2 separate regions of the Homo sapiens genome follow, and region 2 is linked to region 1. Evidence: fine-mapped expression QTL. A gene starts in region 1. The other region holds a variant in brackets. All regions are shown on one strand. Distances are from middle to middle. Region 1 holds the start of SCML1 (Scm polycomb group protein like 1). Region 2 has its middle 38 kb from the start of SCML1.

Region 1 (8,340 bases):
CTGTGAATACCATTTTCATATCAAATGCCATATTTAAATGTCCACCAATATGATTTCTGAGTGGTAAACCTCAAATATGAATTTTAAACTGGTGAACTAAAGGAAATCTTGAGGTCATATACTGAAATATGAATAAATTAAAATAATGAATTCAGATCTAATCATTTTTATGACAAATTGCAGCACCAAACAAACTAATAGCAACCCATGGCTGTGATTTGTTGTGTGGTAATTTGGACAGAATGAAAAGCATGCTTTTGATTTTTTTTTTAATCAGTGAGAGAAGTCATCATTCTCAACACAAAGCCCTGAACAACAGCATTTGACAGTGTCCTTTAGATTTTAATTTTTTCAATGGATTGCTTTAAAGAGAATGAGTAGGGAAAATAGTAGTTAATTTTAGGTTATGTTTTATATTAGGCTACTGGGGACATAAACGGTCATAACTAATGACTGTAATCATTAAACTCCTTAAACAGTTTAGAAATTAGCTCCAGGTTCTTAAACTAACAAAAATAAAACCTAAGCATGCCACAGAGCTATTGATTAATCAGTAAGTACCTGTAATGAGTTTTCAGTGAAGCTTTCTCTCTGTGCTGATGAGATTCATGCTACCTAAAAATTAACAGAAATGACACTGTGAACAATGTAGTTGGAAAATAGGTATGTGTATATGCATTATTTATACTCATTGTTAAACTGGGAATGGGGAACAGCTCTGGTTCACAATACTACATACAACTGAGTTTTTGTCTGGTTTTACTATAGTGTCTGCTTGATGGCAAAAGGGGAGGGTGGAGGGTGGGAGAGGAAATGTCAGGGCATGTGCTCTGATAAAATAAAGGCAGGGAAACAAGCTGAATTACTTGAAATTACTTGAATTTTCTTGTCTTAAAACTGAAAAAAAAATGTAGTTACACGTTAAAATCTGCAAATGGTTTTTACACCTCTGATTTTAACATGAACTTATACTAATGTTTGGAATCTTATGTCAGAAATATAAGCAGCTATGTACTTAGAATAGGTTTTGAATGGGAGAGGTAGAACAGAGAGAGAATTAAGAAGGGATCTGACTTATAAAAGACTAGAATGTGATTAGAGTGATAGAACATACCAATGTTACCAAGAAATTGACAAGCTGCTGGCTTTAAGCTTATGCAAGTGGTAGTTGGGAAAGTAGGAGGTGTGGAAGAGGGTTTGCATTTTGGATTAATTCATGCAAAATGAAGGAGGAAGCCTGGTCTAAGAAGATACTGTCTTTCAATAGAAATGATTTCTAAACTGCTACAGATTAAGAATAGATAATCTGATTGCTGTTGTTTTGTTTGTTTGGAAAGAAAAAAAATGTCTGGCTTCTTCTACTATTTGTTTTCACTACCAAACTGTGTTACTAAATTTCTTGTCATCCTTGTATGTAAAATGGGTGCTGGGGGTGGAGGGGTATAAGAGGAGGGAGAGTCAGAGAGAGTGTGTATGGGTGTGTGTGAGTGTGAGTGTGTGTGTACGCACACACACTGGGGATAGATAAGCTACCTGGTAAAGGGTTTGAACATTTACAAAATGTCACACTTTTTCTTAAAAGAAAAATATTTTGGGGTTTGAATAAAATGGACCACCATTTCTCATTGGAACCCATTAATTAAGAAAACCAGCATGGTTTGACACCACATGGGAACATGAATAAATCTGTCTCATGATTTGAAAAGTACACCTTGCAAAGTTTTAAAAATAAAGTTTTTAGGCAAATGCGATAAGAAACCGTCATTTCCAGTCACAGTAGGCGATCTTTCGTAATTTCATAAAAGCAGTTCGTTTGCAGTATGGCTTTTGTGTAGTTAGGGGTTTTTTAAGTGTGAAGAAAGGTATGTGGGCTTTAAAAGTGATTCTAAATCTTGAATAGAAAACACATGAATTGGCTTTAATAAAAATGTCACCTTTTTATTATTGACATTAAGTAATGGTACCATATATTTTTTAAAATACATATTGACTTGAATTGTGAGGCAATAAGATACCTTCTATATGTAATGATCACAGAACTAACCCTTATAATATAGTTTTACTTATTTTGTTTACTCTAAAAATCTATAGCAGAGTTTCTCTATTTTATATTTCATAGATTTAAAAAACCCAAATAAAGATGGATTTAAAATTCACTGTGGAAAAGAGTATTGAGTTACAAACTGAGAAGAAAAAGCAGGAAGTTCCCTAATAATCTGGAATATTCTACATGGCTTGATTACATAGCAAACAAGACCAAGATTTAGGGCTGTCTTTAACATCACTGCCGTCTTGAAGCAGGGTACACACGTTAGGTATTGTGAAGAACATCAATCCGAACTTTTCTTCTGTTGTTTGCACTGATGCGATTTTTTGTTCTTTTATGTTTATACAACGTATCTATGTTGTGTAGGGGAAATTTTTTCATTTTTTAAAAATTCTACTTTGGTTTTGTTGTTGTTTTGATTTGTTTTTGGCTAAGTAGAGGACATGGACTAGTTGTAGCAAACAGAACATGCTGTTTGCTCTTGCCAAAGGTCAGTGAGTGAGTGCATTTGCTGCAGTGGTGGCACGTAGAGAACTAGATGGTAATAAAGATTTAAAACTATGAAGAAGGTTACAGTGTAACTATTTTGGTACTAGAACCAGTTCATGCTGGCCGAAACGACAATGGTTTATGGACTTGCATCCATTTTGTATTTTTGTAATATTTGTAAATATGAACTTTTTAAATTGCTGCAAAGATGGTTTCTTTTGTAAGATGTTTTCAACGTTTACATTCAATCCAAGCCTTTGTATATTTTAGAGCTGTGCAACACTTTAAGTCTTGTATTTATTTTTAGTAAAAATGGTGACAGTTTCATTGTGAACCCCTCTCAAAAAAAATGTATCAGAAAAGTTTGATTACCTAGAAAGTGTGTATAGAAACTGCAAATAAACGTGACTGCAATTAAACAACCGGTTTCTCTCTTCACTGTTACGTAATTGATTTCTTGGGGCTTCGCAACAGTGTTTTACAGGCAACAGGACATAAGGGCAGGGTCTGTTATGGCAAAAGTAGGAGCAAAAAGAACATAGACCAGCCTGTCCAACATGGTGAAACCCGTCTCTACTAAAAATACAAAAATTAGCTGGGCATGGTGGCAGACGCCTGTAATCCCAGCTACTCTGGAGGCTGAGGCAGGAGAATCGCTTGAACCCAGGAGGCAGAGGTTGCAGTGAGCCGAGATCACACCGCTACACTCCAGCCTGGGCAACAAGAGCAAAACTCCGTCTCAAACAAAAACAAAAACAAAAAAAAAACATATACTATATCTATAATGGGCTTTAATCTAGCTTCGTATTTGAGAGGAAAAATGATACATTTCCAACGTCCAGTATACTTTCTTTGTAGCTCCTCTCTGGGCCAAGAAAAGATGTATAGCTTTACTTTGAAATATCTGCCTGCTTTGCTTCTGATAATTACTCAGACTGTGTCTCCTTCCCAAGATGAGCAGCCTCGATATAAGTATGTAAGACTATATGCCACTAGATGATGTCACATAGCCTTTATTACAATAGCAAAATTCTATGCCAGGTACTGTTCTAAGTGCTTTGCATACATTAACTCATGTAGTCCCCATATTATACCCATTTTACAGATGGGGAAACCGAAGCACAAAGCGGTTACTTGGCTTGCCTAAGGCCATAGGAGGACTGTGTTGGAGCTGGGGGTCCAATCCAGTAAATCTGCCTTCAAGGTCTGCGTTAGTTCCCCAGTCCAACTTGTGGGTGCTGGAGACTGGAAATATCTTGCCCGCCCCCCACCCTGGCCCCCCTCGCCCTTCCTACCAGACCTGGCTCAGGGCAACTGCTAAGGCCCCGCCCCTCTCCTCATTCCAAGTCAATCACTGGCGTGCGTCCAGGAAACCCAGTTTACGACGACGTCTCTGGTGCGTCACAGAGCGCGGGGGAGGGGCGGGATCACATTAAAAAAAAAAAAAAGCTTCGGACACCCCAACAACGAAGGGGGGACACCACGTCCCTAACTACAACGCCACTAGAAGGGTTGCGCATGCGCGCCAGCCTCCTGCGCAGCCGCAGAAACCACTCAGCGCGCGAGTCTCTGAAAGGCCTAACGTCCATTTTCAATCCTGCGGGTCTTGCGAAGGAAAACCTGAGGTAAGAGGCCCCGCCCCACAGCCATCTCCTCAGCAAATTCCCGCCCTCGGCCCCGCCCCACAGCTATCTCCTCAGCAAATTCCCGCCCTCGGCCCCGCCCCACAGCCATCTCCTTAGCAAATTCCCGCCCTCACCCAAGGACTGGGAGAGCACCCGCGGATTGGCCGATCAACGGTGACGCCTGTCAGTGGCCAGACTCCGATTGGTCAGCGGGTAGTCCCGCCCCCCCCCCCCCCCCCCCCCCCCCCAACCGCGAGTGTGGGAATTCGGCGTCGCGGGAGCTCTCTGATCCACTCAGGGGTCAGGGCATCACTGGTCTCGCGTGCGCGTGACCAGGCCCGGTTTCCGGTGCCAGGACCTTTCCGAAGCGTCGAGTGGCCTAACGGTCACAGCTGTCGCCCATCGGAGAGGCAGGACTACTGCGAGCAGTTTTACCGCGACCTCCGGAGGCCGGCGTGACAGGCTCTGTCACTAAAATAGGTCTGTCCAGTCGTACTTTTTCCTCACCTTGAACTTTCCGTCACGGGAATACACGATTTGGCTTAGGGGCCGGGGCTCTCCTGAGGAGAGAGGGTTTGCTTTGCGGGGAAGAGCGAGTCTTGACTTCGCAGCCTCCAATTTCAGCCGCGGTGTGGAGGGGGGTGCTTTGGGTGGTCCCCACAGCCTTTCCGGAGTGCCCGCGCGTGTAAGCTTTTGAGATTTGACAATTTGTGAAGTGCTTGGTGCTGACTTTCGGGGACGACAGGATCCTTTTACAGTCATTCTCCTGTCAGGGGAGGCAGGTGGGGAGCGAGGAAGGATCCAGATTTCGTTAACAGAGCTTTGAGTTTAAAGAATTGACAAACTCCCGAGTTGATTTCCTGTCAGACCTTTTGCGGTTGAGACATAGAGTCTGAGGCTTTGATGGTAACCGCGTTTGATTTAGAGACAGACTGTGCAGCTTCGCTGTTTTATTGTAAATACGTAAATGAGGAGGAAGAGAAAAACGTAGGGTGTTGGGAGCAGAGGCGGGAGGCGGGAGATCCTGCGAAATCGGAGTCCCTTTGGAGTGGGGGAGGCCGTCGAGGCGTGCGAGGGCCCGGCCCCCTTGCCGCGTGGTCGTTAACAGGAAAGGCCCTGATTTGGTTGGTGGCGGATCGCGTCCCTCCCTCCTCTCCCCGGCTCTCCCCGAGTGCGGCAAACTGGCTTCAGGTTGACTAAAAGATAGCGATTTTCCAAGCAGCTTTGCCGCGCGGTGTTTTCTAAAGCGGGGCGTGGGCTGGGTGCCCTTTTGGGCCTCACTTGTCCGGCCTGCGGCAAGTGCTGGGCGATGGGATGCGGTTCTGGCGGCAAAGGAAGGGCTGCCTTTGAGAGTCCCGCAGGAAGGTTTAGAAAGTGATTGTTCTTAAAACAAACAGAGCGTTTTGCTGTGTGTTCCTCAAAGTGGTCCCGGTGGGAGTGGCGCCTCATTGTGAGCTGTGCCTTATCTGATGAATTAATGGCAGGTGAAAGCCTTGCGCCTCCGGAGCGAATATTTACGACTTTTGAAAATGTCTTTAATGTCTAAAAAAAGTCTTTTAGAAAATCAGACGGCCTCTTGTTCTTATGTTATCAAGAGTTTAGATTTCTGTGGTAAATATAAGTGAGTTTCATTTTAAGTAAACTCATTTTACGAGATTTGAGATTTGAAAGTGAAATTAATTAATTTTGCACAATCTAGCCTTGGGCTCTGAGAAAATGTTGTAAAGCTGTAATTAATCTTGTGGGACGAAGTGAAAAGGAACTAAAGTGTATGGTGTAATGAATAGTTTAAATTTCTGTGGTAAATACAAGTGAGTTTCATTTTAAGTAAACTCATTTTTATGGGATTTGAGATTTAAAAGTGAAATTAATTAATTTCGCACAATCTAGTCATGGTTGGGCTCAGAAAATGTTGTAAAGTTGTGATTTATCTTATGGAAAGAAGTGAAAAGGAATTAAGGTATATGGTGTAATTAAGAGTTTAAATTTCTGTGGTAAATGCAAGTGAGTTTCATTTTAAGTAAACTCATTTTTACGGGATTTGAGATTTAAAAGTGAAATTAATTCATTTTGCACAGTGTAGTCATGGTTGGGCTCTGAGAAAATGTTGTAAAGCTGAAATTATTTATCTTGTGGGAAGAAGTGAGAAGAAACTAAAATGTGTGGTATTATCAAGAGTTTAGATTTCCGGGGTAAATATAAATGAGTTTCCTTTAAACTCATTTTTGTGGAATTTGAGGTTTAAAAGTGAAATTAATTTTGTAGAATCTAGTCATGGTTGGGCTCTGAGAAAATGTTGTAAAGCTGTAATTTATCTTGTGGGAAAAAGTGAAAAGGAACTTAAATTTATGGTGTTATCAAGAATTGGCCAGGCGCGGTGGCTCACACCTGTAATCCCAGCACTTTGGGAGGCCGAGGTGGGCAGATCACTTGAGGTCAGAAGTTCGGGACCAGCCTGGCCAACATGGTGAAACCCAGTCTTTACTAAAAGTACAAAAATTAACTGGGCATGGTGGTGCAAGCCTGTTACGCTAACTACTCGGGAGGCTGAGGGAGGAGAATTGCTTTAACCCGGGAGGCAGAGGTTGCAGTAAGCCGAGATCATGCCACTGCACTCCAGCCTGGGTGACAGAGTAAGACTCTGTCTCAAAAAAAAAAAAAAAAAAAAAAGAAATTTAGATTTCTGTGGTAAATATAAATGAGTTTCATTTTAAGTAAACTCATTTTGTGGGATTTGAGATTTAAAAATGAAATTAATTTTGCACATTCTAGTCATGGTTGGGCTCTAAGGCAATGTTGTAAAGCTGTAATTGTTTGCCTTATGGGAAGAAGTGAAAAGGAATTAAAATTTATGGTGTGTCTACTATGAACCAGGCATGATGCTGAGAGTTTAACTGTGTAATTTTTGGCCTAAATAGCCCTGTGAAGTAGATATTATTCCAACTTTACAGGTTAGAAAATTTGAGGCACAGAGAGGTGAAATATTTGCCTAAAGTGAAACGGCAAATTTGGCAATTTGGACTTGGATTCAAGTGTTTATAACTAAAGCCCAGCTCCTTGCATCATACCCTGGTACCTAAAAGACATAAAAACTCACTTCAGGTGCAATGTGAATGAAAATGACGTTATGACCCAGGCTTGTTGTCTATGTGCTCCTTGAGAAATAGTTCTGTTGGATAGATGCGGTCAATACTCAAAAGCCCTTGCTATCTTTGCCATGCATTACTCTAAGCACTTGACATGTATTAATTTAATCCTCACGATTCCGTGAGGTATGTGCTATTATCATTCCCATTTTACAGACAAAAAAAAAAAAGGATTTAAGTAAGTTGTTCAACTTACTTACACAGCTAGTATGTGGGGGAGGTGGGACCCAAACCCAGGTATTCTGACCACAAGCCTAAGGTCTTAATGCTGTTTGATGCTGCCTCTCATGTAACCAGATATGTGTGACAGTTGCCGTAGAAGTATTAAAGTGTGAGTGTTATTGTAGTTCAGGGAAAGCCGTGTCACATCCACATGGGATGATCATTGGCATGGTGCCCTTGCTTTTTGGAGGTGAAACTTGAAGTAAGCCTTGAAGTTGAATAGATTCTCCTAGGCGGAGACACAACAGGGTATTATGGACGGAGGGCATAACAGGAGCGAGAAGCTCAAAGAGTGAAAGATTGGTGTTGATTTGTATATGTACCAGAGATGTAAACATGTTGGGAGTCCAGTGGTGGACTCACTGCACAGTGCTCCTGTGTCTAACTACAGCCAAATTTTGACAACATTGTTATTAATCCAAATAGGGAGTTCTCTGTTCTCTGGATGTAAGAGCTTGTAACCATTGTCTGCAAACTTGCCTGAAACAGGCTACACAGTAAATATTTTAGGCTTAGAACTGCTGTCCCCAGTCTTTTTGGCACCAGGAACCGGTTTTGGTTTTGTGGAAGACAATTTTTCCACAGATGCAGGGACGGGGGAGTGCTAGCGGGGTATAGTTTCCTAATGAAACTGTTTCATAAGGAGAGTGCAACCTAGATCCCTCGCATGTGCAGTTCACAATAGGGTTTGTGCTCCTGTGCGAATCTAATACTGCAGCTCATCTGACAGGAGGCGGAGCTCAGGCGATAATCCTTGCTAGCTCCTGCTGTGCTCCTAACAGGCCAAGGACCAGTACCAGGCGGTTGCCCA
Region 2 (8,340 bases), 38 kb after region 1:
CATCTATTACTTGGCTATCTCCATCTTTTTCATACTTTCTCTGTTCCATTCTCTGATACGATTTTTCACTTGTCTTCACTTTGTCTTCCTGTGACCCATTCCCACAAAAGATCTGGTTCTTCGCTACAAATTCTGTCTTCCTGAAACGCACACCCACTTATTGCCTGGCACTGCTGATTTCCTACTGTCTTCCTAAGATTCCTACCTACACAAGAAGGGGCTATGCCCATTCCATTCTTGTTTGTTTCTTTCATACTCACACGTGATCTGCCTTTGCCCATCTCTTATGTCTTCCTGACATTCATAATACACATTATCTGCCTCTGACCATCTCTGTCTTCCTGACATTCATACTCACACTTTATCTGCCTCTGCTCATCTTTTACTGTTATCATTCATATCACACATAATGTGCCAGGCATATCTTTTACTGTCTTCCTGAGGCTCTTGCCACACCTGATCTACCTCTGCTTATCTCTTACTGTCCTGATGTTCATAGCCACACATTATCTGCCTCTGCCCATCTACACCTGATCTACGTCTGCTTATCTCTTACTGTCCTGACGTTCATAGCCACACATTATCTGCCTCTACCCATCTCTTACTGCCCTTCTGATATTCATTCCTACATGTGACCCGCCTCTGCCCATCTCTGTTTTCCTGACATTCACAGCCACACATGATATGTCTTGTCCTACTCTTACTGTCATCCTGACCTTCATACCAAAGGTGATCTGCCTCTCCACTTCTTACTATCTTCCTGACATTCACACCACACGTGACGTGCTAGGCTTATCTTTTACTGTCGTCCTGACATTCATACCACACCTGATCTGCCTCTGCCCATATCTTACTGTCTTTTTGACATTCACACCAACACATGATCTACCTCTGCCAATGCCTTTCTGCATAATTGACATTCATAACCACACATGATCTGCTCTACCCACCACTTACTTGCTCCCTGACATTGATACCACATTGATCTGCCTCTGCCCATCTGTTACTGTCATCCTGACATTCATACCACACATGACCTGCCTCTGCCCATCTCTAACCGGTTTTGTGAGACTCATACTCACACATGATCTGTCTCTGTCCATGCCTTACTGTCTTCCTGACATTCACATCCAAAGATGATTTGCCACTCTCCATGTCTTACTGTTTTCCTGAGATTCATACCCACTCATTATCTGCTCTGCCCATCGCTTCCTGTCTTCCTGACATTCATACCACACATGATCTTCCTGTGCCCACCTCTTATTGTCTTCCCGACTTTCATACCCACACATGATCTGCCTCTGCCCATTTCTTACTGTCTTCCTGACACTCATGCCACACATGATCTGCCTGTACCCATCTGTCACTGTCTTTTTGACACTAATACTCACACACGATCTGCCTCTGCCCATGTTTTATTGTCTTCCTGACATTCATAACCACACAAGATCTGCCCCTGCCCATCGCTTACTGTCTTCCTGAAATTCATATCACACATGGTCTGCCTGTGGCGGTGTCTTACTTTCTTTCTGACATTCATGCTACACATGACATGCCCCTGCCCATCTCTTCCTGTCTTTTTTTACATTCATACACACACACGATCTGCTCTGCCCATCTCTTAGTCTCTTTCTGACTTTCATACCACACATGATCTGCCTCTGCCCATGTCTTATTGTCTTCCTGACATTCATATTCACACAGGATGTGCCTCTGCCCATCTCTTACCTTCTTTCTGACATTCATATGCCCACATGATGTTTTGCCCATCTCTTCCTGTCTTCCTGACATCCATACCACACATGATCTGCCTCTGCCTATCTCTCTCTGGTTTTCTGACATTCATACCACACATGACCTGTATCTTGCCATCCCTTGCTGTCCTCCTGACACTCATACACACACATAATCTGCTTCTGCCCAGCTCTTATGGTCTTTCTGACATTCATAAATATACATGACCTGCCTTTGCAAATTCTTTACTGTCTTCCTGACATTCATAACTACGCATGATCTGTCTCTGTCCATTTATTACCATCTTTCTGACACTCATACCCACGCATGATCTGCTGTGCCCATCTCTTCCTGTCTTCCTGTCATTGATACCACACATTATCTGCCTCTATCTCTTACTTTCTTCCTGACATTCATACCCACACATGATCTGTCTCTGGCCATCTCTTACTGTTTTTGTGTCATTCATACCCACACGTGATCTGTCTCTGCCCATCTCTATTTTCATGACATTCAGACCACACGTGATATGCCACTGCCCATCTCTTACTGTCTTTGTGACATTCAGACCACACATAATCTGCATTTACCGGTCTCTTACTGTCTTCCTGACACATATACTCACATATGATCTTCTCTGCCCACCACTTCCTTCCTTCCTAACATTGACACCACACACGATCTGCCTCTGCCCATCTCTTACAGTCTTCCTGACATTCATACCCATGCATGATCTGTCTCTGCCCATCTATTACCATATTTTTGACATTCATACCCACACATGATCTGCTCTACCCATCTCTTCCTGTCTTCCTGACATTGATATCACACATGATCTGCCTCTACCCATCTCTTACTGTCTTCCTGACATATATACTCACATATGATCTGCTCTGCCCATCACTTCCTTTCTCACATTGATACCACACATGATCTGCCTCTACCCATCGCTTACTGCTTCCTGACTTGCATACCACACATGATCTGCCTCCACCCATTTCTTACTGTCTTCTTGACATATATACTCACATATGATCTGCTCTTCCCATCGCTTACTGTCTTTCTGACATTCACGCACACACGTCTGCCCCTGCCCTTCACTTACTGTCTTATTTTCCTTCATACCCACCCGTAATCTGCATCTGTCCATATCTTACTCTCTTCCTGATACTCATAACAACACATTATCTGCTCTGCCCACCTATTACTGCCTTCCTTACATGCATCCCCACACATGCTCTGCCTCTACACATCTATTACTGCTTTTCTGACATTCATAGCAACACATGCTTTGAGGCTGTTCTGCTCTTACTGCCTTCCTGATATTCATGCTCACACATGATCTGCATCTGTCCATCTTATACTGTCTTCTTGACATTCATATGCACACATGGTGTGCCTCTATCCATCTTTTGCTGTCTTCCTGCCATTCATACTTACACATGATCATCCTCTGCCCATCTCTTCCTGTCTTCTTGACATATATCCCCGCAGATGATTTGCCTTTACCCATCTTTTACTGTCTTCCTGACATTCATCCTTATACATGATATCCCTCTGTTCATTCTTTGCTGTCTGCCTGACATTCATACCCACACATGATCTGCCTCAGTTCATCTCTTACTGACTTCCTGACATTCATAGCCAGACATGTTTTGACTCTGTCCATTTCTTACTGTATTCTTGACATTCATACCCACACATGAGCTGCCTTCTCCCATCTCTTACTGCCCACCTGACATTCATACTCACTTGATCTGCCTCTTCCCATCTCTTTCTGTCTTCCTGACATTCATACTCACATATGATCTCCATCTCCTCATCTCTTACTGTGTTCCTAACATTTATGCCCACACATGATCTTTGTCTGTCCATGTCTTACTGTCTTCCTGAAATTCCTACCCACACATATTTTTACTGTCCATCTCTTACTGTCTTCCTGACATTCATACCACACATAATCTGTTTCTGCCTATCTCTTACTGTCTTCCTGACCTTCATACCCACACATGATTTGCTTCTTCCAATCCTATTGTCTTCCTGACATTCATACCCACACATGATCTGCCTCTGCCCATGTCTTACTGTCTTTCTGACATTCGTACCCACACATGATGTGGCTCTGACCATCTCTTCCTGTCTTCCTTTCATTGGTACTCACACAGGATCTGCCCCCCCACCCCCCTTCTCTTCTGTCTTTCTGTGCTCCATCCTCACACCTCTTCTGCTCCTGTCCGTGTCTTTCTGTTTTAGTAGGGTCCATATCTACCCGTGATGTGTTTCCTTCCCTTCTCTCGTTGTCTTACTTGATTCTGACCCTTACTGAATATTCGACCCATCCTTCTCCTCTCGGCCACTCTTGTGAAGCTGCCCTGGCCATTTCTCCAAGGCTTCCGCATGTCCAGCTTCCTCCTGAATTCAGGCCTCGCCTTGCAGTGGCTCTTCCTGGGTTTCTCTGTTCCCAGGTGTTGGGGCTTCTTCCTCTTTGAACAATTCATGTCTCAGTTCCAATGTGGCCTCTCAGAGAAGTCTTCTGTGACTGTCCTTCTTGGCACGTCCTCCCTTCCTTGTCATCCCCTTTCACACGCCTTCGGAAAGAATTTTGTTCATTTCTGTTTTCCCTCCCCTTGCTGACCAGAAGGTCAAGGTCAAGGCCTGGTGTGTGCGGCTGCCTGGTGTGTGCGGCTGCCCGCTCTGTCCCCGCCTCTCTCTGTCCCCGCCTCACGATTGTGCATGGCGCCCTGGAGGTGCTCAGTGAGGATGTGTTCAATGAAGAAGTGAATTCTAGGAGTCAAGACACAGCTCAGCAGGAGTGGCCATGCACGCTGAAATTCACGGGACCCCAAGGCAGAGGAAAGCTGGGAGGAGCCAGTGGATTTGGACTGCAGAAAGCCGGTGGTCGGCTGTGGCTAACTGCGCTTGCAGGACCCACGAGGCGGAAGGTGGTGGAAGGAGGGACTGGGGGGTGGGTTCAGGGAGGAAAAGAAACGTGAGAATTTGAGTGGCTGGAGAAGAAAACATGCGGCCGCAAGCGTGTGAGGCAAGCCTCGGGCCAGGGGCTTGGCTGTCCTTCGTGGTGGGCTGGTCCTGCTGTCGTGTTGCCATCGGGGGTGGGAGCTGGGGCTCCTGGCCTGTAGACAGGGCTTGGCTTCAGGCACCAGGAGCCGCTGTCTACACGTAAGAGAGGCGCGAAGAGCTCAGGTTGGAAGGGGG[T/G]TGTTTAGAGGACACCGTGCCCCGAGGCAGGTTGAGAGGCAGGAGGACTGCTCAGGTGGGATTCGCGGGTGATGGCCGGGGGCTCAGTGAGAGGGCTGGGGAGCTTGATCTCCTGGTGCAGCGGCGGGGCTGGAGAGGGCAGTGAAAATGGAGACCATCAGAGATAGCCCTTGGGCCACGGGGCCGGGGTCCAACAGCAGTTGGCGTCATTTTGCAGGGGGAGGAGTCGTGGAGCCTGGAGGGGAGGTGCAGAGGCTTCTCAAGCTGTCCACGGGGGGTGCCAGGGTCAGGGGGCCACAGAGAGCAGAGGCCCAGCACTGGAAGCCAGGGAGGCGGGAGTCCAGGACAGGGTGCCCCTTGGGTGAAGGCAACACACAGACTCCCGTACCAACACGTGCGCGGGTCACCAAACCCACACCAAGTCAGAAATTCCAGTGCACGCAGACGGTCTACCAGTTCCTGCTGGGGGCCTGCGGAGGGCCCATGGGCGCCGCCTGTTCTCAGGACTGGCTCCCGCTGGCTTGGCCCTGTCCACGGAGGCCCCTCCATGGCGCTTTCCATGCCTCTCCTTTCGGGGACCCTCCTCTGTCCAAGAGCCTCAGAGCCTTTCGGAAAAGGGTTGGAGAGGGAAAGACCTGCCCAAAGCACTCAGGGCTGGGCCCCCCTCCTCTACCACCTCTGCCTGTGTGGCTTTGTCACAGGGCTCAGGCAATCCGAGTCTGTTTTCTGCTTGGTCCAACGAGGATCACCCCTCCCCCAAGGGTTGTGACAGTTCAGAGAGATCAAGATGGGAAAGCATCTTGTCCCAAAGGGTGCCCACCCTGTCCCTGCTTGCCTTCTTGCCTTTCCCACACCCAGGCCCCACTGCTTCCTTTTCTACAGCCTGGCCACAGCTCACCCCACCACACGCAGTGAAACTGCAGCCCCAGGAAGCCTTACTATTAAGGAAGACTTTCAATTCCTTCTTCAAATTCTTTTGAGCTTGGGTGTTGGAGTCACTAGCTATGGGTTCTGGGTGTCTGTTTCTCTATCTATAAAGTGAGGCTGGGAGGATCTCATACATTGGTATGGACTATGTTCACATAGTGTCCTGGGTTAGAGTATCACTTTTTACTGACTGTGAAAACAGCTGAATTATTGGACTCTTTCTCCATTTTGCTCACTCCATTCCTGGGGAAATGGATGGGATTTTTTTCTGATCAGTAAATTTGGGAACAGTAGATTAGGCAATAATCTGTCCAGGTCCATCTTCTGCTTCTGGGGTTTCTGGGTGGGTGAGCCTGGCTAATACCGGAATCCTCTTGCAGACCTCTTGCACTCTCATGTTCAACTGCATCCTCTAGTGGGAGAAAGATGATATTTTAGCCTCCATCTTTACTCTTTTATTTCTCAACTTTTTAGGACCTGGGGGGCAAAGAAAAGAGGGATGATATTTATTGCAGCCCCCTTGGAAAGTAGGTGTCTAATCTCTCTCTCGCTCTTTCTCTCTCTCTCTCTCATACACACACACACACTCACACATAGAGTCAGTCATCAGATTCTGTTGCCTCCTTCTCCAAAACACAGCTGATTCTGTCCATCCCTTTTGTCTTCATCTCTTGCTGCATCATTTTACAGACATTAGCTACCCACATTTAGGGTCAATAATGGCTATCTTCTCCAGGTTGTTATGCGCCATGAATCTAAAATAACTTTTATGTAACCTGAATACATAATCATAATAGTGTCCCTCAGATCTCTAATATGACTCTTTCCTACCTGGCTAAACTCATTTCCTACTTATTCTGACCCACACACTTTGTGCCAGCCAACTTATCTTTATACTGTTTCGATTTTCTGAACACAGACCTTCCTCTCACCTCAAAACCATTTGAAATAGATAAAGCAGCTCTTTTCTCTTGTATACTAAAGATACCTCCAATGATCCCTGCTCCCTGGTTTCTGTACCCTTGTGCAATCCTCTCCCATTCAGTGTAACTTGGACTTACTGAATCCCCTTAAGGACAGACGTGATGAGATGTCAATTCTGCAATTAGATTTTAAATGCTATGGGCTCTGTCTTAGACATTTTTTCAAATAGCTTGCTCTAGAGGAAGTCAGCTGCCATGTCATGTGGCATCCCAAGAGTTGCACATGCAAGGTCCAAGGTTGGCCTGCAACTTTGCAGGTGAGCTTGGAAGTGGATTCCTACCCCATCACCCACTGAACTTTCAGATGAGATCTCAACCAGCTTGACTGATACCTCAGGAGAGATCCTGAGCCAGAACCACCTGTCTAAGTTGGGGTTGGGCTCCTGACCCATAGAAACTGGGAGATAATCAATGTTGTTCTGCAGCAATACATAACTAAAACAATGACTTCCTGCTTTTTCTGTCTTTTTTTTTTCAGGGTTTTGCTCTGTCACACAGGCTGTAGTACCACATGGGTGTCATCATTGAGAAGTATTTATTGAGTGATGATTACTGTTTTTTAATGTTGCATCTTCTTTTATTAATTTATGTCTCAACATATTTCATAAGTGAGCCTGGCTGCTTGTGAAATCAATAGCAATGCTTCCGTTAGAAAAAGTGCAGGTACACAAGAAATGACTGGTCAGAAATGTGATCTGCAGTGGCACGATCACAGCTCACTGCAGCCTCCTCCTCCCTGGGCTCAGGTGATCCTCCCCCCTCAGCCTCCCAAGTTGCTGAGACTACAAGTGTGTGCCACCATGCCTGGCTAATTTTTGTACTTTTTGTAGAGATAGGGTCTAGCCTGGGTTCCCCAGGCTGGTCTTGAACTCTTAGGCTCAAGTGACCCTCCTGCCTTGGCCTCCCAAAGTGCTGGGATTACGGGAAAGAGCCACTACACCTGGCCTCCTGCCTTGTTTCTAAAGACAAAAAATGTGTTGGATTACTAATCTCTTTTCCCCAAATCTCACTGCCAAGTTGTCCTCCCTTTGATTTCCTCTCTCCACTGGTAATAACCATAGAATCTGATGGAAAGCTGTCTGTTGCTTATAAGTGCACAGGAAATTCTTGATGGCTGGTTTTTGATTAAAGTCCTAATCTGTTAAATCTGAACTCTGGAAATCTTTGCAGAAAGTCCCAGTGAGATTTTGAAGGAGTGAATACACTTTCCTCAAAGTGAAAATATGCAAAGTTCCTTCTTGGTGTGTGAAACGTTTGATATGCGCAACCTGCTCTGGTAGTTATTTTTAGATCTTCTCTGTTGTGGAGTGCCTGGGTCTTGTTTTCACTTGTCTTTTGGTGTTTGTGTGTGACTGAATGAGGTCAATTCCAAGGAAGAATAAGGAGTTGCTGAATATGCTTTAGGGGGCAGTTATGGATATTTAGATTTATTTCTTTTCCCCCCTTTTGTTCTTAAAAAATTGGTTTTTGCTGTTTACTTTCT

Evidence for each region.
Region 2: its variant is fine-mapped to the expression of SCML1 in whole blood (TOPMed, PIP above 0.99).

Annotation. Positions count from the first base shown.
Region 1 is chrX:17,733,040-17,741,379 of GRCh38, forward strand. SCML1 (Scm polycomb group protein like 1) reads left to right here and starts at 4,454. Exons shown (of 8, transcript NM_001037540.3): 1 at 4,454-4,641. It overlaps NHS (NHS actin remodeling regulator), which reads left to right. Exons shown (of 9, transcript NM_001291867.2): 9 at 1-2,955.
Region 2 is chrX:17,771,049-17,779,388 of GRCh38, forward strand. No RefSeq gene overlaps it. Among named protein-coding and RNA genes, the nearest start is that of SCML1, 38 kb to the left of the region's middle. The variant T/G (reference allele first, on the strand shown) is at 4,948.